2 separate regions of the Homo sapiens genome follow, and region 2 is linked to region 1. The links come from fine-mapping of genetic effects on gene expression. A gene starts in region 1. The other region holds a variant in brackets. All regions are shown on one strand. Distances are between the middles of the regions.

Region 1 (12,089 bases):
AAATGAAGAAACCATAGTGTTCTTCAGCAATTTTCTCCTGAACTTATTATAAATTATACTTTCTCTCATTTTGATCTTCATAAAGTCAATCCTATCTGTCTCTGTCAATAACTCCCCAAATGTTTAGCATCCTGGTAGTTCCATATAATGAAAAGAAAAATTAAGCCAGTTCCATTTTATAAAATCAGAATGATATTTATTTTGTTGCTGTATCAAATTTTCTCCCACTGGTCCCAGATATTTTCAGTTTGAAACAAGATGAGGGAAAAATCAGATAATGTGAGTATCTCATTTCTAGTCCACTGATGTACTCAGTATCTTTCATTAACTTTTAAAAATTGTCAGTCTGACATGGAGCTATGATTAACTTAGATTTACGTAGGAATTAGAAAGAAACTAGAAAAATCTCTTTTGTAGTATAATTTAAGAAATGCATCTTATCTTTTAGTAATTCCTTATTTCTTTGAAAGACTAAGTCTTAAAGAAAAAAGTTTCCTCAAGTGATAATAATTGGAATTTCACGTCTGAAGAGGCCTTCTGGGGTGATAGTTTTTGTGTCAACTTGGCTAGGCTGTGGCACCCAGTTATCCAATCTAACACTAGTCTGGGTATTGCTGTGCAGGCATTGTGGAGGTGTGGTGAACATCTCCAGTAAACTTTGACTTTAAGTAAAGGACATCATCCTCAATAATGTGAGTGGGCCTCATCCAATCAGTTGAAAGACCATAAGAGTAAAATGGAGATTTCTCTGAGGAAGAAATTTCTCCTAAGGATGGCACCTTTAGTTTCAGCTTTAGCTGTTACTCAGGAGTTTCCAGCCTGCCAGTCTGCCAGCCTGCCCTACTGATTCCAGACTTTACAGCCCCACAATCACACTAACTTATTCCTTAAAATAAATCACACACACAATACTGACTCTGACATACTTGGTGGCCACCCTTAGGTTCTGAGGGTGAAAAAATGGCAGAGTGATAAAAGTGTGGTATTTATAGTTACGATGTCCTTGTTCAAAGTTCCTTTCTTGGCCAGGCACAGTGGCTCATGCCTGTAATCGCAGCACTTTGGGAGGCCAAGGTGGGCAGATCACCTGAGGTCAGGAGTTCAAGACCAGCCTGGCCAATGTGGTGAAACCCCATCTCTACTAAAAATACAAAAAATTAGCCGGGTGTGGTGGCAGGCACCTGTAATACCAGCTACTCTGGAGGCTGAAGCAGGAGAATCACTTGAACCCTGGAGGCGGAGGTTACAGTGAACCAAGGTCACGCCATTGCACTCCAGCCTGGGCAACAAGAGCAAAACTCCATCTCAAAAAAAAAAAAAAGTTCCTTTCTTAAGTATTTTTCATTGTGAGCCAGTCAATTCACTGGCCAAGTAATGAGACAAACAAAACCTTCTAAGCATGAAAATTTGTTACAAAAAAAAAAAATTATTCAACTCTGAGCAATAATTCTGATTGACATTCTGACATTTCTGAAGTTCTCTTTGGTAATTCTCTGTTGGCAGCCTCACAACCACAGCCAGATCACTGTCCTTTGCCATTCTCTCTGGCCCCTACCATTGCACTGAAACCCCTTTCTCCTTCCTCCTCTGTTCTCCTCTCCTACTACTAATATAAATCAGTCTTTTAGACCTGCAATGTCTTTAGGAAGATAGTCTAAGCGTTAAGAAAAATGAATTACAGTCTACTTTGGATTAATAGCACCTTCTCTGGCCACACATATTTCATCTCAAATTTTATTGTTCTCTAAGCTCAACAGCTAGATTTTGGAGTTTTCCATTTTCCTCATTGGAATACCTAAGAGTAAACCAATATGGTAAACAAATGATTCATAGATGATTGATTGATTGATTGACTGATTGAGGCAAAAAATGAAACAACCTCCCCCCACATCACACATACACACACAGTGATAGATTTTAAGGGATGACAAACCTGATTTCAAATATTCTGCCCTATTGTGCCTATAAGTACACTTCTGCTTGTCAGAATGACAATCAATGCAGTCCACATACTTAGCTGTTGGACTACACTCCCTTTCATTTGGCAGGAACAATTAAGTTTGACCCAATTAAAAATTACAGTCTAATAAACAGTTTTGTAAATTAATCAATAGTAGATATAGTAAATATATTTTTAAAAATTTCAGACTTTATTATAACATTCTATATATAAATTATATGTATATGCACACATACAGACATTCATTCTCCTGAATGTAATTGCTGTTAGTTCATGAGAAGCTATGAGAAGATTCAGACAAAAAAGAAAAACGTTGATGCAAAGGGCAATTCTCTAGTTATTAAGACTACTAGTTTTCTAATGGTAGGTCATTGTTTGCAAATTTGCTACATTTTTCTATGGGAGCCTACAGACCAAAGGGGAATCATTTAGCTAGTGATAGCAATGGCAAACAAAATATCACATCAAAATCATCAAATAATTTGGAAATTAATAAAGTGTTTTGATGAACACTTTGTACTCTAATATATACATATATATATATATATATATATAAAACTTGGTAAGCAGTTTTGCAAAAATAGTTTGATTTACTTAGATAATGAAAGAAAATAGGTTTTTAAATTATTGATTTACATAATAATTTACATTCATTTATTGATTGTTGAATTTATTTAATATCAACTTGCAAAATGATTGGTGTCATCACATAGGGCTGAAGGTTTTGGAAATAATCTTTGAGGAAGTTCCCCAAAAGAATATTTGTTTTGCAAATCCATGGTTGAAAAAGTTTGGGTTACACTTTGCTCTAGTCAAGTTAGTAGGAATATCTTCTCAGAGAGGGAGTTCTAGAGTCTGATTTTATATATATGAAAGCTGAAATCAAAACAATTTCCTCAAACCCTATCCCGGTGAATATTTTAAGGGAGAAGGATGATTTGTGGGGAACTGAAAGAGAGAGGATTCAGAGAACATTTGTCATGGTTTTGGGACTGTTCTATACAGTGTAAGACATAGAACATGGGGACAATGGCATTCAGACACCAGAAAGTTGATCTCTTGTAAGATCAAGAGATGTCACCAGCCTTTCCCAGGTCTTCAATGACCAACCCTCAGAGCGGTCACTTTTCTTTGCTCTTCTTCTATGGTACCCAGCCATTTTCTGATGAAAATTTGTCTTCTATTCCTTATTTCCCTAATGTCTAGCACAGATCCTGGCATATTATAGCAGGAATTTAATAAATTCTTGTGAATAATTGAACAAAATCATAAGTTCTCAAGTGAATGAAAATTGGAAACAGTTGCTCTGCATAAAACAATAGTATTCAGGTCACTGGAAAGAAGTGCCCACCCCCACCACTGGAATCCCCACATTGACATCCTGCAGTATCTATCATTTTGTGAGTAGTTATTACAAGTTACCAAAGGACTGACCACCTCTGATGACACAATCAAAACCAGTTTCAGGACCTGCAAAGCTGAGGACAGACCCTGAATTCTGAGGATCTCACCGAAGTATGTTGAAACTATTAATATGAAACGGCTGTTTCTGTGGGTAAAAAGACCAAGCGTCAGCGATTCACATGGTCCTATCTTGTGAACAAAAGTTCTCTGAAAAGGAAGTTTGGAGAAAGGAGACTTTATTCTAGTGAACAGTTTGCAAACCAGGGAGACACAGCCTTCGGAGTAAAAGAAAGGTGATTCCAGAGAATAAAGGGGAGGGTTTGGCTTCTATAGAAAAAGTTCTTGTCCAGGTTTCCAATCAGATGTGTTTATGCAAAGGAAAGATTCAGACTTGCTCAGTTCAGATTGGGTAATACAGCTGAACCCTGATTGGATAAAGCAGATGAGTTCTGATCGGTTACATCAGGTGAGCCCTGATTGGTCAATTCGGGTAAATTGTGAAAATCCCAAAGGGGTGTGAGTTTTCTGGACACAGAGTAGTTGTGACCTACTTGGGACCTGACTTGAAGAATTGCTCTTACAGGTTTATTTTTGTTCATAATCTAAACATCTGCATCCTCTGAAGCTCTGTCTTGGTGGAGACCAACTCCCCAAATATTAAGAACATTTCTGTATTCTTACACTCTAACTGCTACAAAGCAGTACTTTCTTCTTTAATTTTTGGGGAGGGATGGGGAAGGTAGAACAGAAGTGGTTCTTGACCAAGGTCAACTTATGTTCAGAGCTGGTTCCTTCCGGTGGGTTCATGGTCTCGCTGACTTCAAGAATGAAGCCATGGACCTTCATGGTGAGTGTTACAGCTCTTAAAGGTGGCACAGACCTAAAGAGTGAGCAGCAGCAAGATTTATTGTAAAGAGTGAAAGAACTAAAGCTTCCACAGTGTGGAAGGGGACCCCAGTGGGTTGCCCTGCTGGCTGGGGTGGCCAGGTTTTATTCCCTTATATGTGCCCTCCCATGTTCCATTTTTGTCCTATCAGAGTGCCCTTTTTTCAATCCTCCCTGTGATTGGCTACTTTTAGGGTCCTGCTGATTGGTGCTTTTTACAGAGCACTGATTGGTGCATTTTACAATCCTCTTGCTAGCTACAGAGCACTGATTGGTGTGTTTTACAATCCTCTTGCCAGACAGAAAAGTTCTCCAAGTCCCCACTCTACCCAGGAAGTCTAGCTGGCTTCACATCTCAATGTTACTCCCTAATTTCTTACTCTTTTTAAAACAAAAACATTTTTCCCTCATGTTATAAAGGTACTGCAAATTCAATATGTCCTTATTTTTAAAAAAATTAAATGCAAAAAATAAAAATAAAAATTTTGAATACCTAAAGTCTACCTAGAGACATTTTAATACATTGACTTTTTAATACATTTAATACATTTTAATACATTATCTTTTTTCTTTGTATAATCTCTTGTAATTCATAACTTTGAATATACTGAATATACCTCTATACTTCATGTTTTTATTTCAAATTACCAGTATACTATTACATACTTCACACTTCATTTTTGTTGGCTGAAAATATTCTTCTCAGTGGATGAGCTATAAATCATTGTTTATTTAGGTTGTTTTAAATGTTTCTATTATAAACAATGTCATTAATAGCTTCATGTTTATATAATTTTATTTTTTAGGATAAATTTCCATAAGTGGAAATATACTGGCAAAAGAGAAGTGTTTTTTTGTTTTTTTTTTTTTGGAGACGGAGTCTCGCTCTGTCACTGGGCTGGAGTGCAGTGGCACGGTCTTGGCTCAATTCAAGCTCCGACTCTCTGGTTCAACTAATTCTCCTGCCTCAGCCTCCTGAGTAGCTGGGATTACAGGCATGCGCCACTCTGCCCAGCTAAGTTTTGTATTTTAGTAGCGACAGGGTTTCACCATGTTGGCCAGGATGGTCTTGATCTCCTGATCTCGTGATCCGCCTGCCTCAGCCTCCCAAAGTGCTGGGATTACAGGCGTGAGCCACAGCGCCCGGTCAGGAGAAGCTATTTTTAAAGACTTTGACACATATAAAGCAATATTTAAAATCAAAGAAAGTGTAATTTGTTTAACAATTTTTTTTTTACTTGAAGCGGTCTTTTATTTTATATTATGTCTTTTGCTGACTTTTACAAGCAAAGGATGAAGTCACTTCATTCTGTTTTGCTAGGGAGAGACTGTGTCATGCTTATTGGAAGACATAAGGGCTCATAATTAGATTTTGCTGGTTCCCTAGAGACAGTCCCGGGAACACACTTGCATAACCTTTGGTAATTGGAAATATATCTCATATTGGCCACGTGCACAATAATTCAGTGTGAATATGGCCAATAAACATGCCTTGTTTACAGGTCATTAGTTTGGACCTCTCTTCTCCTCAAATGCTAAGAAAGATCTGGTGAATTAAAATGCTTCCAGTCCATTTGCCTTGGCCTGTAGTGAAAGTCCTAATGAACAATGAAGGAGGTACCGGGCCTTAGGGACTCAGGGATGCGCTCAGGAGTTAAGGGCAAATTTTCCTAGGTTCTTTCCTAGGCAAGTAGATCCCGGGAGCGGTGGAGGGGCGGGACTCCACGTCTCCTAGGAACCGCTGCGCGCTCACTGATTGGCTGATCGCTGCTCAGCCGCCATTTTCAAATCCCCGGATGACGGCGGTGGCGGCTGCAGTCCGCTGACAGGCGCTTTCTGCCTGGCAGAGGCTGGCGGGCATCGTGCCCGTCCCTGCCGGTCTCCCGGGCACCCGGCCACCGCCCCACCCCCTCCTCCGTGCCATGGAGCCCGAGCTGGCGGCTCAGAAGCAGCCTCGACCGCGGAGGCGAAGCCGCCGGGCCTCTGGGCTCAGCACGGAGGGAGCGACGGGGCCTTCGGCCGACACCTCCGGGTCGGAGCTGGACGGGAGGTGAGTGTGGGGGAGGGGAGGGCCGAACGGGAGGTGAGTGTAGGGGAGCGGAGGGCCGAACGGGAGGTGAGTGTTGGAGAGGCAAGGGCCGGGGGGAGGGGAGGGCTGGCCGGGAGTTGGATGTGGGGGGCGGCGAGTGGGGGTGTTGGTGAGGGCCAGGGGGAGGCGAGGGCCGCTGGGAGGTGAGTGGGGGGTGGGGGAGGTGACCGCGGGGTTGGGGGGGGGGACGGGGGCCGCTGGAAGTGAGGGTGGCACAGGCTGGAGTGACAGTGTGCCTGGCCTTGGACCGAGGTCGGTCCTGAGACCCCAAACTGCGATTTTCCCTGCCTGTGGCAAAGGGGCGGGTTTATTGAGTCTCCTCGCCTCCTGACTGTTTCTCAGGGGAGACTTAGGAAAAACCACAATGGTTTTGTTCTGCACACCCAACTGGCTGTAGGCTGGCGTTCCCAAATGCCTTTGCTCAGACCGAAACTGTCATGGTGAGCACCACGAGAATGGGCTTCCATGTCCTGAGAAAGAAAAGACTAAGGGATAAGTTGACTTCGGGATATGTTATGAGATGCCTATTAGAGAGTTCATCACAACCATTTTCGTGTTTTTTCTTTTTACTTTTTGTGGAAGTATACATTGAAATGAGAGTGTATGACTCGTGTTTGGCTCAGTGAAATTTCACAAAGCGAAGCTCAGGGGATAGCTAGTGAATTAGGAGGAAGGGAACCAAGTGAGAACAGTATCCAGGAGGCCAAATGAAGAAAGAATTTCAAGAAGAGGACGTGGCGAGCTATGTCAGATGTTATTGATAGGTCAAATAAAATGAGGATTAAGTAAAATAAGATGAGGATTAAGCTAGATGAGGAATGAAAATTAAATTTGGTAATGAGAAGAGAGTATTGATCTTAGATGGTTTCCAAGAATGGTTACAATATCGAACTTAGAGTGTTTTGCAACAGGTTGAGAAGAGAATGTGCGATTTGTTCAGAAAATAATGTGAGTGCCAACACTAGGAATATGGAAATGGAAAAATACTCTTGTTACTATTTAAGATTTATAATCTAGTGGGGAAGAAAGATAAGTAGGTTAATAATTATTATAATATGTGATAAAAGTTATTATAGTGATATACACAGAATGCCGTAGATTAAAAGGAACACTTAATCCTGACTGGAGAGAATAGGAAATGATTTCCTATTGTAATCCCTGAGTCTTTAAGGACCAGTTTAGAGAGCAGATGTAAATGGATGATTTCAGGCAGAGAAGCATGTAGAAAGGCCCTGAAGCAAATGAGTCTGATGAGTTCTGGGTATATATTCTATTTTATTACTATATTAACAGTGATATTTGTATAGAGGAGAGGAAACCAATATGGGGAGAAGGAGGAGGTAGTCATGAGAGATGATGCTAAAGAGGTAAGCGCCACATCATGAAGAGACCTTGTATGCCTTGACAGAGTTTGGGTTTTATCTTCATGGTAATGGGGAAATACTGAAAGACTTTAAATGAGCCAATGGCATGACATATTTGCATTTTAAAAGATCAGTTTGCCTTCCATGAGAAAAATAAGCAACATTTTGGAGTCATCTCACTCTTCATATTTTATGAAAACTATTCCCCAAAAATGTGCACATATACATAAACATTTCAGGAGATTTGTGGACCCAGCTGTGTATACCAAATTAAAATTTCCAAGTTTAGCTGATGGATTGGTAGGAAATCAGTCTGCAGTAGTCTAAATGAAAAAATGATTGTTCGAATCTGATAGCTGGCAATGGGATTGGTGAAGAGAAGTTTCACTGCAACAGGAAGACAAGAAAGAATAGAGAGAAATAACACAATTTTGTGGGATAGACTCTTAAGAAAGAATAAATTCCCTTGATGTGCTGTGCTGAGTTAACAAATAGAGGGAGAGGTTGAACAGACAGTAGAGGAGAAAAATGGTTGAACAAGGATCCAAGAAGGCAGAAAAGGACAGAATCCAAATTCAAGGTAGAGGATTTAGCCTAACAAGAAGCTATGGATGATATATAGTTTTGAAGAATGGGGTGTGTTGTGAGCAGGAATTTGAGGACTTTCCCACCAGGCCTCTATTTTTTGTGTGAGGTAGGAAATGATACATTGTGAGAAAAGCGTAGTAACACAGGCAGCATGAGGAGAGTGAGACACAGTTAGAAGAACCATGGAGAGAAAATGGAGAATTAAATAACATATTCCTTTTCCAGAAAAGATGTAAGATCATCTACAAGAATACGTAAAATATTACAAGATAGTATTAATTGTGAGGCAAGAAGCAACTAAGCACTGTATCAGATTCAGAAATCATAAGGAAAAAGATTTGTGTGTATGATTATGTGACTATTGAAAAACGTTCTGCAGGCAAAACTCAGTATAAACTAATTTGAAAGACAAATACGTACAGTACAATTTACCCACTTAAATTGTACTACTTAGAACATTTTCATCACCTCAAAAAGAGCATTTGTACCCTTTAGCTATTGTTCCTCTCCTACCCCTTCTGCCCTAAAACCTAATCTGTCGGTCTGTAGGAATTTCTCTGTTCTGGACATTGCATATGAATGGATTTATGTAATGTGTGTGGCCATTTTTGGTGGGCCATCCTTTGCTCTTTTTTTTTTTTCTTTTGAGACGGAGTCTCAGTCTGTCACCGGGGCTGGAGTACAGTGGCATGATCTCGGCTCACTGCAACCTCCGCCTCCCGGGTTCAAGTGATTCTCCTGCCTCAGCCTACCAAGTAGCTGGAACTACAGGCATGTGTCACCACGTGTGGCTAATTTTTTGTATTTTTAGTAAAGACAGGGTTTCACCATGTTGGCTAGGCTGGTCTTGAACTCCTGACCTTGTGATTTGCCTGCCTCGGCCTCCCAAAGTGCTGGGATTACAGGCGTGAGCCACCGCACCTGGCCCTGTTCATTTTTAAATTTCTTTTTTATTGAGTTGTTAAGAGTTCTTTATTCTGGATACAAGTCCCTTATCAGATAGATTATTTGCAAATATTTTCTCTTATTCTGTGGTTTGTCTTTTCACTTTCATGATGTGCTTCGAAGCACAAAAATGTTTTAGTTTGTAGTCCTACTTGTCTATTTTTGCTTTTGTTGCCTGTGTTTTGGTGTCACATCCAAGAAATCACTGCTAAATCCATTGTTATGAATCCTTTCCCCAGTGCTTTCTTCTGAGAATTTTATCATTTTAGCTTTTATATTTGGGTCTTTAATCCATTTTGAGTTAGTTTTTGTATATAATGTGAGATGACGGTCCAACTTAATTCTTTTTCATGTGTCTATCCAGGTACCCCAGCACCATTTTTTGAAGACTGTTCTTTCTCCCACTGAGTAGTCTTAGCACCCTTGTCAAAAATCAGTTGACCTTAAGCATGAGAGTTTATTTTTAGACTTTGACTTTTATTCTCTTGATCTATATGTAATAGCCCTATGCCATTACCATGGTGTTTTGATTACCGTTGCTTTGTATAGTAAGTTTTGAAATTGGGATATGTGAGTCCTCCTACTTTGTTCTTTTTTTCCCAAGATTGTTGTGGCTATCCTGGGTCTCCTGCAATTCTATGTGAATTTTAGAATCAGCTTAATCGATTTTTACAAAGGAGTCCACAGGGATTCTGATAGAGATTGCATTAAATCTTGTAGATCATTTTCAGGAGTATTGCCCTCTACAGAGAGTTAAGTAGTCTGATCCATGGACAAGGGATGTTTTTCCAATTATTTAGATCTTTAATTATTTTCAACAGTGTTTTGTAGTTTTCAGAGTATAGTTCTGCATGTTTTGCTAAATTTATTCCTAAGTATTTTGTTCTTTTTGATGCAGTTGTAAATGGATTCATTTCTTTTGAAATGGGAAAAGTTCCCTTTTCCCCCTCGCAGGGCGTGCACTGGAGGTGTGCTCGCTTCTTCGGTGCCCTGCTGTTCAAACCTCTAGGGGAACATATAGATAGGCAGGCTGTGGGGCTCCAACCCCATAGCCATGTCTATGGGTGAATGTTTACAGCTGAAGCCTCAGTGGGCTTGTGTTACAGGGTACTCTTAGTTTAGCCATCCGTAGGCGGCTTGTATTCATCAGCTCAGTTAGACCCCTGCCTTATTTCAAGGACAGGGGGCCTTCTGTATCCCAGGGTTCTTGCCTTGATGTACTGGAACAATCAGATGACACGTTGGCTTGGATAATGATTGCAAGCTTTTATAGAGTGGAAGTAGCTCTCAGCAGATGGGGGAGCCAGAAGGGAAATGGTTTTGCCCTGGTGTCAGGTTGCCCGATTCTCCTCCAACCTCCCTGGCCAAGCTCTGCGTCATTCTGCGAATCGATGGCCTGCCAGCTGGCCTGCCAGCGTGCTGGTGTACTCCCACGTCGATGTGTTCCTCTTGACATCCAGCCACCTGTGTGTCTGCCTGCTAGGGTCTCGGGGGGTTTTTATAGGCACAGGTGGGGGCGTGCTTTTATAGGCACAGGATGGGGGTGTGGTGAGCCAGGGTGGTCTTGGGAAATGCAACATTTGGGTAGGAAAACAGAAATGCCTATCCTCACTTAGGTCCGTGGGCCCAGGCCTGGGGATGGAGCCCTAGCAAGGGACCACGCTCTCCTCTACGCAGCACTTCCCTGCCCCGCTTTGTATCACTTTATTTTCAGTTTAATAATTTCAATTGTATAGGAATACATACAATTGATTTTTGTATATCGATCTTGGATCCTGCTACCTTGCTGAGCTCATTAGTTCTAATAGTTTTTTAGTGGTTTCTTTAGGACTTTCTGTGTACAGGGTCATGTCATCAGCAAATAAAAATAGTTTTACTTCTTTTTCCAATCTCTGGATGCCCTTTACTTTTTTCTCTTTCCTAATTGCCCTGGGTAGGGCCTCCTGTACAACGCTGAACAGAAGTGGAGAGACGGGAAATTCTTGTCTTGTTTCTGATCTTAAGGGGAAAGCATACAATCTTTCACCATTAAGTATGATGTTAGTTGTAAGCTTTGTAGATGTCCTTTATCAGGTTGAGGAAGTTCCATTCTGTTACTAGTTTTTGAGTGGTTTTTATCATGAAAGGTTTTAGGGTTTTTTTTCTTTTGTCTATTGAAATGATCATGTGGTTGTTGTTATTACTGATGTGTTACATTAATTGATTTTTTGGGATGTTAAACCAACTTTGCCTTCCTGGTATAAGTCCTGCTTGGTCATTGTGTATAGCTTTTTTAAATATATTGTTGGATCCATTTTGTTAATATTTTGTTGAATATTTTTGTATATATATTCATAAGATATTGATCTGTAGTTTTATTATCTTGTACTATGCTTGTCTGGTTTTGGTATTGGGATAATACTGGCCTCATAAAATCAGTTAAGAAGTATTCCCTACTGTTTTGTTTTTTTTGAAAGAGTTTGTGAAGAATTGGTATTCTTTCAATGTTTGGTAGAATTCAGTGTAAAGCCACCTAGGCCTAGACTTTTCTCTGTGGATAGTTTATTATTATTATTAATTCAATCTCATCTCTTGTTGTAGGTGTCTTCTGATAGTTTGTTTCTTATTAAGTCAGTTTCAGTAGGTTGTATCTCTTTAGGAATTTGTTTCATCAAAGTTATCTAATTTGTTGGTGTACCCTTCCTTGTTCATAGTATTTCTTTATAATCCTTTTCATGTAATGTCAATAGTAATGTCCCCTCTTTTATTTCTGATTCTTGTAATTTGTGTCTTCTTTCTTTTTATGATGATGGTCAATCTAGCTACAGTCTTGTCAATCTTGATCTTTCCAAAGAATGTGATTTTAGCTTCATTA
Region 2 (12,089 bases), 150 kb after region 1:
AGAGTGTCTTGCTCTGTCACCCCAGCTGGAGTGCAATGGTGCGACCTCAGCTCACTGCAGCCTTGACCTCCCCGGCTCAAGTGATCCTCCTGCCTCAGCCTCTTGAGTAGCTGGGACCACAGGCATGCACCACCACACCTACCTAATTTGTGTATTTTTTGTAGAGATGGGGTTTCACCGTGTTGCCCAGGCTGGCCTCAAACTTCTGGGCTCAAGAGATCCTCCTGTCTCGGCCTCCCAAAGTGCTGGGATTACTGGTGTGAGCCACCGCGCTCGGCCGGTACACATTTTATTAAAGGCACAAGCTTTTTTATGGGTCTCCCCCTCTACCCAGAATGCCTTGGTGTGTTGCTTCATAAGTTGAGAATAATATGCTGGCAAATATTTTAGAGTGTAGACCCTCCACGCAGGTATGCACCAATCATTGCCGTCTCTGAATGTTTTATCTCTGATTAAGCAGCGTGGATTTTTTTTACTGTTCCCCAAAATACACACTGCCTCGGGGAGCACCCACTATCGGGGTAGCTGAGGGTAACCTGGACCATACAAATATTTAATCAAACTGCACCTCCTGGGAATTCCTAGTGTGGGTGACGCACCCTCCCTCATAATGAAAATCTTTTACCCCGATCCTGCAGTCACACCTCCTCCCACAGACCTCCACATGCAGGCTTTTTCCTTACCACACACATGCTGTCTGGAGAGGAAGCCAAGAGCCCTTCCAGAGAGGAGACTGTGAAGAAACCGAATGTCTAAATAAAGTCAAATCTTCTCTGTGCACCTTGCAATCATCATTCAAAGAACATTGCACACATACCCTCCTGCTCTATATTAAGTACACCTTCCCTGCTGGCTCAAAACAACCCCGAGGCTTGGGGGTAGGCACGGCCATAAATAAAGCGTGCTTTAAGCTGGCTCTAATTTAACTAGAGTCTTTGGCGAGGGGAAATGCAAAGAATATTTAAACAATGACACACAACCAAAACTAACAGGCAGGCCTCAAAGGGGTTCGTCATTTTTTTTCCATCTAAAATTAAATTTCGTGGGTTTTTTTTTTTGCAGAACTTTGACTCAATTGCTTCAGGTTCTTGTCTGAAACATATTTGAGTCCCTCTCTCTTGTCTCTGTCTCTCTGACTCTCTCTCTGATCTCTCTGAATCTCTGTCTCTGATCTCACTAACTCTTTCTGTCTCTGTCTCTGTCTCTCTGTCTCTCTGATCTCTCTTTCTGACTCTCTGTGTGTATGTGTCTCTCTCTCTTTCCCAGACCTCCGCCCCCCACAGTTTTATCTCCAGACAGTGTGTGTGAGACAGGAAAGGGTCAGCGTGGGGGGATGGGGAGTGCCTGAAAGATCTAGGAGTGATGGGTTGACATTGTTCAGAGATTAGAGATTATTGGAAATAAGTTGGAAATGCTCTTCTGAGAGCTTTGGACTTCTTGAAAGAAATATATTCTATTTTGTTTAAAACAGCCTTGCGATCAACCAGTCAATCCATAGCTGCTTGTTGAGAACAGCGGGAAAACGGAAACATGATATTGGCGCTCAGAGAGCTTGGCTGGAGCTCCAGAGACCAGGGAAAATCTTCAGTGGCCAAAAGCACAACACGACACCTTACGGTGAGGCACGGACCGGACCAGACAACATCCATCTTCCTTTCCTCAAATCTGAGACAGTCCCAGAAGGGTGGGACCCAGAGAGGGGCAGATACAGGCCACACTCTACAGCCAGCAGTCAACACACCCATCCCCCAGAGGATGGTCCTGGGCCCAGACCTGGCAGAGAATGCAGGGAGACCCTCCGGGAGGGGCTCGCCCAGGGCCAGGGACCCAGTCGTCTGGAGACAGTCAGATGAAGCCTGCACGGGTTGACTTCTCTCTGTCATTCAGCTGTGCGTTTGGGGGCACCTGCTGGTATATGGCAGTGTGCACCATGGAGGGTGTGAAAATGAACTCAGAGTTTGCGCCTCAGGTTCCCAGAGGACTTTGCTCATGTCCCATACGGCCACTCACCCTGCATCCTATGTGTTTACAGAATTCTCCAACCCAGCATTCAGATCCAACTACATCTCCTGAGCCCCCAGCCCAGGCCCTGGCCCATGCCAGGCATGCAGGGGCTGGATGAATAAGACAGAGTCCAAGCCTGCAGGACTAAAGGCCCTGCCCAAGGGTAACACAGGCCCTCGAAGCCATGGCGTCCAGCAATAGGACAGTGTCACCCACTAGTTGGGGAGCCACAGGACCTCTGGAGGGGTGAGGGTGCCCGGAGGGTGCATGAGATGCTTCGGAGGGAAAGTGACTTCCCAGGAAGCCCTTGGACAAGGCTGGGAGCCTCCACTGCAGAGAGGGGAGGAAGAGGGTCCCAGGTGAGGAGAAATGAATGTAAAGGGCTCCGGAGCAATGGGGACAGGCGGCCACGCAGCGCTGGAGCAAGACGTGCACGGAGGAGCCAGGAGGTGACGGGAAGGGCCCTGGAGCAGGTGCCAAGGAGGCCGGACGCCCTGTGGGCCGTGTCCCTCCTGCCCTGTGCTGCGGTCCTCACACCACCAGTGACCACAGCAGGAGTAACGACGCCCAGCTTCACTGTGGGCCGGGCGCGGGACAGGCGTTGCTTTGAGCCTTTTTCTGGAATTGATCCTTTAATCCTCACAAACGCTCTGTGGGGAGATCCCTCTATTTTACAGATGAGGAAACCCAGTCTCAGAAAGGCTGAGCTGGCATCCCAAAGTTGAGGAGCCCAAGATGGCAGAGTGACTCCAAGCCCTGCCCCTCTCCTTGCGTCCCCCCACCCCCGTCCTCCTCTCCTGGTGTTACCCTCCAGGTCCCCTTCGCCTGGCATTCCCCCTACAGGTCTCCACCTCCTGGTGTCCCACTCAGGTGCACTCTCCTGGTATCCTCCCAGGTACCCCTCTCCTGGTAAAACCCAGGTCCCCCTCTCCTGGTGTCCCCCGCCATCCTCCTCTCCTGGTATACCCCCAGATCCCCCTCTCCTGGTATCTCCCCCCAGATCCCCCTCTCCTGGTGTCCCCCTCCAGACCCTCCTCTCCTGGTGCCCCTCCCGTCCACAGGCACTGCAGGCAACCCCTCCACTCCCGACCATGGCTCCAGCCCTCCCACTGGCTATACCTCCACACTGGGCCCATTGCACAGCTAGCTCTCGGGTTGGACAGACATCTGATGGCCACATCCCTGTGGAGGGAAGTGTCTCTAAAGGACACACGGTCCCTGAGGGATGTCTTGTGGTGTTCTGTTGTCAGACCACCAGGTCCCACCAGCAGCCATGCCTGTATCTCTTTATCCTCTTGGTCCTGACCCCTTTGTTCTGGTCTGAACATGGCCACTGCTCCTGGAGCCCCAGTGAGGGGAACCAGAGACCACGGCCACTGTCTCCCAGGGTTCCCAAAACCCAAACAATGGGGGCCGCCTTGGTGTGCGTGAGCCCTCCCTCCTCCTCCCTCAGAGTCTCACAAGTCCTCCACAAAGCAGCTGCTTCTGCCTCACAGAACCATTTATGGGGCCAGTTACTGGACTGCTACCTATGACCTTCCATCTCCACCCCAGAACCGAAGCACAAAACTCCCACCTCATTGCTCCCTGACCCAGACGAAAATTCCTCCCCTCTCAGCCAGAGAGGAGTGAGTGAGGGTATCTGAGGCTCTGTCTCGGTTTAGCCTCAAACAAAGGAACTGTCTCTGTGCAATTATTCAATATGAATTGTCAATGTCTATTTCCCCCGTTGTCTTCTTTTCAAACTTTACTAGGCATAGTCATAGAAACTTAAATTTCCTCCCTACCTAGCAATTCTAATAAAAAGCTTTGGTCAGTTATACACTGAAATTTTTAAGGCTGGAATGGTGGGTCATCTAGATTTGCCAAGAAACAGCATGGGGGATTATGGGGAATATTGATAAAATAAGGTTAATTAGGAATTGAAAGCTGTTGATGATAGTGTACACAGAAGCTTATCGCCATATTCTGTTTGCCATTATGAATGCGCAAAATCTTCCAGCAAAATGTGGATGAGAAATAAATAAATAAAGTAAGAATGCTGTTGGGGCGAGAGGCTCCAATGCATGGCAGCACCACCGTTTGGGGGTTCTCTCTTTATTTCATTTCTCCACGTGATCTCTGGCACCCTAGTAACCAAGATTTGGCTGGCTGTGTGTTCCTAATCCAACAAAACCAGCCAGAGCTGGAATTGAAGTCTTCGAGGTGGAGTGAACCCCAGTGAGCCCACCCCAGGGCTGCCCCCCCAGGTCCGCCTCACAGACCCACTTCTGCAGCCCCCCGTCAGGTCCCCCTCACAGACCCACTTCTGCAGCCCCCTGTCCAAGTCGCTGCCCCAGGTCTGGACACGGGCTGGAGGGTCATCGTGGTAGTTGCCTCTGAGTCAGCAAAACGCTGCTGTCACCTGTGAGGTCTGCAGTGCGTCTCAGAGGAGTGAGGTCCTGGAGGGGTCCTGCCAAGCCGAGATGCCGGAAATGGGGAGCTGCCGGGGAGGGGAGATGGGAGGTTGGAAAACGGTGTCATGGGAGTTCTCTCCTGGGCCTTTAAAGTGCCCATTCTCAGACAGAGGAGTCCAGAGGGACGTCTGGAAGCTTGGTTTGGAAGAAATTCCAGACTTCCCTGGGCAGCCAAGGCATTCTCTAGCTTTCTACGATCCAGGCCTGGCCCCTGCCTCATAAATCTCGCAGGAAGCGCTCTCAGGAAGGACGCTACTGGCCTGGGGCAGCCTCGGAGTTGAATGAAGATGGTTTGACTCTGAGAATGACTGGCCCCAGCCAGATTCCCCGTGGGGCAGCCCGTCTGTTTGGAAGTCTCCTTCCCCGCCGGGCCTGCACACCCACCCCTCCTGCCACATCAGCCCCAATATCTCTGCATTGAGCCCAGTGGGCACCTTCCCTTCCGTTGCTCAGAGAGCTTCAGAGACAGACCCTTACTCCTGCATTGATGTCCATCCAAGGGACGGGGCTCAGGCTGTCCCTTCCAGCTCACGAAATAGGTGCAGAGCCAGGCAGAGCAGCCCAAGTGTGACTCACACCCCGCCAGGTCCCGTGGGCACTTTCTCAGCAGGGTTGTGGGGGCAGCAACTCCATCCACTTTCCTCTGTCCCCTCACCCGCCCACCACTGCCCACGGCCAGAGTCACTGGAGCAGCCTCCATTCCGTCCCTGCACGGCAGTCACCATGATCTCTCCAAACCACAAGTCAGGGTGTTGCCTCTGCTTACAAGCCTTTGGTGACTGCCTGCCGTCTCAGACATGCTCAGCAGCAGTCACACTCACCGCCCCGTCATGCCTGTCTCTCACCGTCCTCCCGGCTCGCTCTCCTCTCACCAGGCTTAACGGCCACACTTCCTGGGGCACTTCTGTGACCCCAGGGCCCGGCTGGTGCCCTTCCACGGTGGTGCTTCACCACCTTGCAATTGCTGGTTTACATCCCTGATCACCCAGACTAAACGTGAAGGGCCAGGACTGTGCTGAAAGTCCTGAAACCCAGAGATGAGAGCTCAGCTCAGACCGCACGTGATGCCTCGGTGTGGACATGTGCCCAGCTGAGCGTGCAAGCCCCTAATGGCCGCTCAGCAATGCTTGTGTTTTCTCCCTTGAAACTCTGGAGCAACTGCAGCCAAACATCCTCTGCTCACTCTGTTTGTATCTCTGTCCTCTAAATCAGCCCTCTGACTTCCTCCCCGCCTGCGATGAGACTGTGAAGGAATAACAACATCCGGAGGAGATTGTGCCCCAACTTGGCTGTCGAAGGGGCCTCATCAGCCACCTTCATGGCCCAGACGGTCAAAGGCTGACCCCACAGAGTAAGGCTGGCCCTAGGAAGAGTGGGTGCTGGGCAAGGTCCACCGTGTGCCGCAAGATCCCCCATTTAATGCAAACAACATCTCAATGAAAGATAGCATCAAAGACGGCAGTCTGAAGCCCAGGGAAGGGCGTGGACTTTGAAGTTGGGCAGGTTTGAGTTTAAGTGTTGTTTTGCCACTTCTGCTGTCTGTACCATCTTGGCAATCTGTAAAATGCATATAACACCTCGTGTGTTAGGGTGGGTCCTTGCTGCAATAACAAACAACCCCAGATCTCAGTAACTGCGTGCAATGAAACACCTGCTTCTCCCTCACACGAAGCCGAATGTGATGGTTTCTAGTTACATGGTTCTCTTGGGTGGGCTTCTCCCAGGCCGCAGCTCCACTGAGCTCCATAGTCCCCCGCTGGATCTCCTGCCCTAAAGTGGTCAACAGATGAAGAGAGACGGTGTGAGTATTGGGCAGGAGGTTTCTGGGGCAGCCTGGAGGTGGTGTCCTCCAGCATCACTCCCAGGGGCCCCGGCTGCAAGCAGGACATGCTGAAGCTGCAGTGTTCTGGGAAAGACATAGCCCCGCTTCTGCCACACCTGCCTGGCAGAATTGTCATGTTTTAGGGGACGGCTCGTAAAATGGCTTAACAGGCTCTTGGCCCAGGGACTGCTAGAATAGTGAGTTTCCTTCTTCTCTTCGCCTTTGGTGATGTTGGGGCTGGAAGATTTCTAGAATGAGCTGTGTCTGTAAAGAAGCCTCAAGTCTTTTTTTTTAAGCACCCGCGGATGAGGCTTTTTGAGGCACTAGCCGGGCATCAGAGGCCCAGGGAAGTTCAAGGGTTCACCCTGATTGGCCTGAACATCTGGGAAGTTCTGGGCTGAGCACGATGACAAATGTGCCTCCCACCCCCACCATCCACACTCATCTACCCACACACACGGGTTCTGTCCTGCCCCGAAGGAAGATGGTTTCAGGATGACTGGATTTCTGAATTTCCTCCGTGCAGATTAAGGAGGCTTAAGAAGCCCGCCTGTTGGGAGGAAGCCTCCGACCGGAGCTGCTCTGGCTGGGAAGGGGTGGCTCAGGGTGGTGCCTGCTGTTCAGCCAGGCTCCCCGAGGCAGGTGGGATGAGACACCTGGGTGGGGCGGGCAGAAGCTCAGAGTCTGCACGGTGCCAGGGAGGATGATGAGGGCGAGGATGGATGAGCCCACAGGGGTGCATACTCCACCTCCCGAAAACACAAGGAGCTCAGCGGCTGCACACACAGGCAGCACAGAAAAGAACAATGGGGCAACTCGAGGGCGTTCTGAGGGTACCTCTTGCCTACATCACCTGGTTTTAGTCATCTCCCACGTGCCTGCCTTCAGGCTGATGGACTTCTGTGAGATCCCTGGGTTGCTGGCTTTGAAAGCCACTGGGTACCGACCACCCACATCTTGGCAGGGGAGCTCCCATTGCTAACATTGCTTCATAAAGTGCCACTGGAGAACAGCTGTTGAGTGGTGACCAGCCCCCAAGGAGTCAACCGCCTTTCCCACCCCCAACTCACCAGAGTCCCATGAGGACACCCCACACTCAAACCCAATCTGGACAAAACTGTCAAGGACCCTAACCCAGGCGTGCCCCCCACCTTCTCATCCAGCTCCCTTTGACTCACTTGGGTGGTCGCAGCCGCCGGCTGTGATTTCTGGCCCATGCCTAGTTATTTTAAAGGCCAAATTTTCACAGCCATGCAACAGGCCCTTATCTCCAGGCCTTCAGATGCTCCCATGTGGCTTGTTTGATTCTCCTTCATATCAGCCCTCTCTCAAGACTCAAATTTCATTTCAAACCAAATTTCTCTTTTCTCCATTCTGTTGACTGGGCATCACCATGGCAACCCCCACCCCCATTGCAAAC[A/C]TCCTCTGAGGAACGGGCCCACATGCAGGGGCTTGAACCTGTCATCGCTGTGAGTCAAGGTGAGATGAGCTCACTTCCCTTGATCAGCCATGAGTACTGAGTGCAGCTTCAATTTGTGTCTTTGTCACTAGGACAACTCTGTGACTAGTGTGCTTCGGTTAGGGCAAAAAGTCCTTCTCCAGGAGAAAGAAGTAAGTAAGTTACCTGCCTTTACAGACAGTTGGTCCAATGGATAAAACAGGGGCTGCCAGAGAACCCTACAGAACAAAAAACCTATCATGCAAGATTATTACATATCTATCTTTTTTTCTCAGAAAAAGGCTGGGTGCTGTGGCTCACACCATAATCCCAGCACTTTGGGAGGCCGAGATGGGTGGATCACCTGAGGTCAGGAGTTCGAGACCAGCCTGGCCAACGTGGTGAAACCCTGTCTCCACTAAAAATGCAAAAATTAGCTGGGTATGATGGCATGTGCCTGTAATCCCAGCTACTCAGGAGGCTGAAGCAGAATTGTTTGAACCAGGGAGACGGAGGTTGCAGTGGGCCTAGAATGCGCCACTCTACTCCAGCCTGGGTGACACAGCCAGACCCGTCTCAAACAAACAAACAAACAAACGAACAAAAACCTACTAAATACCACCTATAACAAAAATGAATTTGAAGATTTCTCACAAACTCATGGTCACAAGCTTCTTTGGTAGTTGATTTTGTTGAAACAAAAGCTGACCATAAATCCACAGAAGACAATTATGAAGGAAAGCCACCCCACAAGCTTTGCTACATCCAGTGAAAAACACGTGCTGCACACATGAGTCTCCAGGATATGAACAAAATGTTTACGAGCCAAAAATTATGAAGAAGGTATTGATCTCAATACATTTTATTAGCATCCAAATAGCCATCCACAAATATTTGCTCAGTGATAAGGAGGAATGCTACCTTGTTCAACATCTATATTCTAGAAGTTAATCATTTTCAAAGAATCAGCTCATTAACTAATAAATAACAATGTTGTCTTCCACCATAGTTTAAGGCAATACCCCTTCTTTTCCTATCCATCTGCATGGTTTGTTTTGTTTTATGATGTGAATGTTATATATTTTATCAATATATGGACTTCTTAATGAGCCTGAAGACAAAAACCACATCCTTGCTGTGGCTATAGGAGGCGATATCTCTCCGAAGGTCACATGGGATCATTTCTGATGAATACACCAGGTATAAGGAGGTGTGTCTCTCAGACCTACAACAATCTAAGGAGGAATGCCCTAAACCTTGGTTCAAGGGATGATTTCATGCTTGTATACATACACAAAAGTCCATCAAACTGTATAGATTTGTGCACTTTATTATATCTTGGCCTTATTTTTAAAAACAGAATAAAATTATCAGTGAACCTCAGAGAGGGTCTCAGTTTCTCTTGCTTTTGACCACAAAAGTGTCAAATTCCTCCCAAATTATGGAGAGAAGCTAGAAGGGAGAACAACTAGGGGCTCAGGCAACACGGTTGTGAACTGTAGTTAACGTTTAAGGGCCGGGAGATCTGTATCTAAGCAAATCATCAGTAAATGCCAGCTTATCTCAGACTTTGTAAACTAATTTGTTTTATGCTTCCTGAATTCTCATTTATTCTCCTTCATTCTCAGTATTAGACAAAGTACAGTCAATGCTTGTCATTCTCAGTACTTCTGTTCTCTAAAGTCACCAAGAACAGTGAATTAGCAAATACAGTCAGCTCTCCGAATCCATGGATTCCAAAACCTCAGATTCAACCAACCCTGGATTGATAATGTAATTAGGCCTATGATGGTTACATCTGTACTAAACATGTCTATTTTACTTCTTGCCATTATTCCCTAAACAATATAGTATAACAACTATTTACATGGTATTTACATTGTATTAGGTGTTATAAGTAATCTAGAAATGATTTAAAGTATACAGGAGGGTGTGCATAGATTATATGCAAACACTATGCCATTTTATATCAGGGCCTTGCATATCTTTGGATTCTCGTATCCGCAGATGGTCCTGGAACAAATCCCCCAAGGATACCAAGAGACAATTATGCTGAACCATTGTTCCCAGGAGAAATATGGGGTATGTTCCTACCAGCCCTGACCATAGCATTTTTGTCAACCAATCCATATATAACTTTGTTTTATGTATGTTTCTGTTTAAAGGCACCTTATTTAATATAAAGTGTTGATTCATTGGTGGGTAAGTAGTTGGTTGGTTAGCGGGTGGTTTGTTGGCTGACTGGTTGGTGGGTAAGTGGTTTTTGGTTGGTTGGTTAGTTGGTGGTTGGTTGGTGCTTGACTGGTTGGTTGGTGATTGGCTAATTGGTTGGTTGGTGGTTGATTAGTTGGTTGGTTGGTAGGTGGGTGAGTGGTTGGTTGGTTGGTTGGTAGGTGGGTGAGTGGTTGGTTGGTTTGTTGGTAGGTAGGTGAGTGCTTGGTTGGCTGGTTGGTGGTTGATTGCTTGGATGGTTAGTGGTTTATAGGCAGTTGGTGATTTGTTGGTTGGCTGGTGGGTGGGTGAGTGAATGAGTGTGTGGTTGGTGTGTGGTTGGTTCGTTGATTGGTTGTTGGCTGGTTGAATGAATTAATAAATTTTGCTCTCAAAAGCTCATAGTCCCCCCCAAATCCCTTCTCCATCTGTCATAAAGTCTGATATTTCTAAAGTTAAGATCCTCGATTAAAAAGCATCATGGAAATGTAAATATTTAAACTGGATCACAGAACTATCTTTCCTGGGAGGTGAGAACTCACTAATGAGTTAATGAATGGCACAGGATTCATTTCTCCAGTCATTTTTCCCTTATGATTCCATGACACCCGTGGAAAGAATGGGCACAAGGTAGGTATGTGTCTATGGAAAAGAGGGAAGAAGTAAGAAAACATCTGGAGTAAGACTTTCCTCTCTAGTCCTAGAAAAAACCATTGTGATGCCAGGAAAAAAAATTATCTTCTCTCAAAAGAGTGTGTTTACCTTTAGACAACAGCTATCTGTTGTAAAGGCTCATCAGTCCCTCAGTGTGTCACTGTGATCACAAATCTCCAGGAAAGGAAGATTTTGCAGGCAAAGTTTCTGGGAAACATTTCACAAGAGAACGGCAGCCCAGCAAAATGTGCATTTGGGGAGCCTGGCTTGGGACATGCATCTTACAGCCTGGTTTGCTGCCAGGATCCCCCAGGACACTCTCAAAAAAACAGATCTCTAGGCTCCCCCGAAACCTTTGGAAATATTCTTGAGGGACCAAACAAGAAGCAGATACTTCCGAGAAGCCCACCAGGTGAATCTGACGATGAGCCCAGGTGTGGAATCTCAGGCAAGGCCTGGTGGAAAATCCGTGGTCTGCGAGGAGAGCTGCCTGGGAACCCGGCACGACGGGGAGACACTTGAAGGAGGGGCACATGCGCCAGAGGTGAAGCTTTGCCCTCTCCAGCACAGAGTGGGCCGTGAGCTGTCCGCCACAAAGGCGGAGAGATGAGGTAAGAGGGAGGCTGCATTGTTTTGATGTCCAGGCACAGACTTGGCATCCACCAGCCCAGGCAGCGCCACAGCCAGGCTGGCTCTGGAGGAAAGGGTGGGCCATGGCTTTGAAGCCAGGCAGGCACACTTCCTCCAGGGCCCGGGTCTGCATGCAGGGGCACGAGACTCAGAAGCCAGCTCGCCCATCTGTTTCCGTTACATGCAGATGGGGCAGAGGGCGGAGGGCGCAGGGCTGGATGGGGACCAGACTGTGAAGCCTTCGGGGACTGCGTCCAGCTGCATCACAGGTCTCATCTGGCCCAAGGAGGCCGGTGGGGCGGTGTCAGGGAAGCCCAGTGTCCAGGGCTTTGAGTGCTAATTCTTCTTCCTGGACATCGGTCCCCCTCCTCACTAGCTGGAGGCAGGGTCCCTGCCTTGCTTTTGCAGGCACCCAGTGCCTGTCGTCAAGCCTGGCCTACAATAAGTATGTGGTAAACATTCATTAAGTTGAACTGAATGCTCCTTTCAGTGAGAAGATGAGCTCTTCCATCTCTCTCATTAGACAGAGGTCCCCATCAAGGGGTTCACATCAACTGGTTGTTAACAAAAAGAGGGACCCTGGCCCAGCCAGCACCTGCACACAGGAAGCATTCAGTGATGCTGGCTTTGTTGATTTGCAATGACCATCTGCAAAACTCTCTTCCCTTTATCCGGGTGTGGGTTTGGTTCCTGTGTATCCAGATGAACGTAATTGCCATCATCGATACCAGATACCCAACCATGACCCCTTCTTTTCCCCTTTTTTCAACTTCTACTCTAAGTGTAAACAAGTTAAATGATTTGGGGTTGTTTTGCCCTCATCTGATTCAAAAAGAGGTGATGAAGCATCTCGGTTCTACCAGCTGTGTGATCA

Evidence for each region.
Region 2: its variant is fine-mapped to the expression of NET1 in whole blood (INTERVAL, PIP 0.91).

Annotation. Positions count from the first base shown.
Region 1 is chr10:5,406,522-5,418,610 of GRCh38, forward strand. It overlaps NET1 (neuroepithelial cell transforming 1), which reads left to right and starts at 6,036. Exons shown (of 12, transcript NM_001047160.3): 1 at 6,036-6,299. The coding sequence starts at 6,172. RefSeq lists a silencer at 5,948-6,377.
Region 2 is chr10:5,559,076-5,571,164 of GRCh38, forward strand. LOC105376381 (a long non-coding RNA gene) reads right to left here and starts at 7,806. Exons shown (of 2, transcript XR_001747274.2): 1 at 7,461-7,806; 2 at 4,086-6,230. RefSeq lists an enhancer at 1,655-2,156 and a silencer at 4,869-5,095. The variant A/C (reference allele first, on the strand shown) is at 7,703.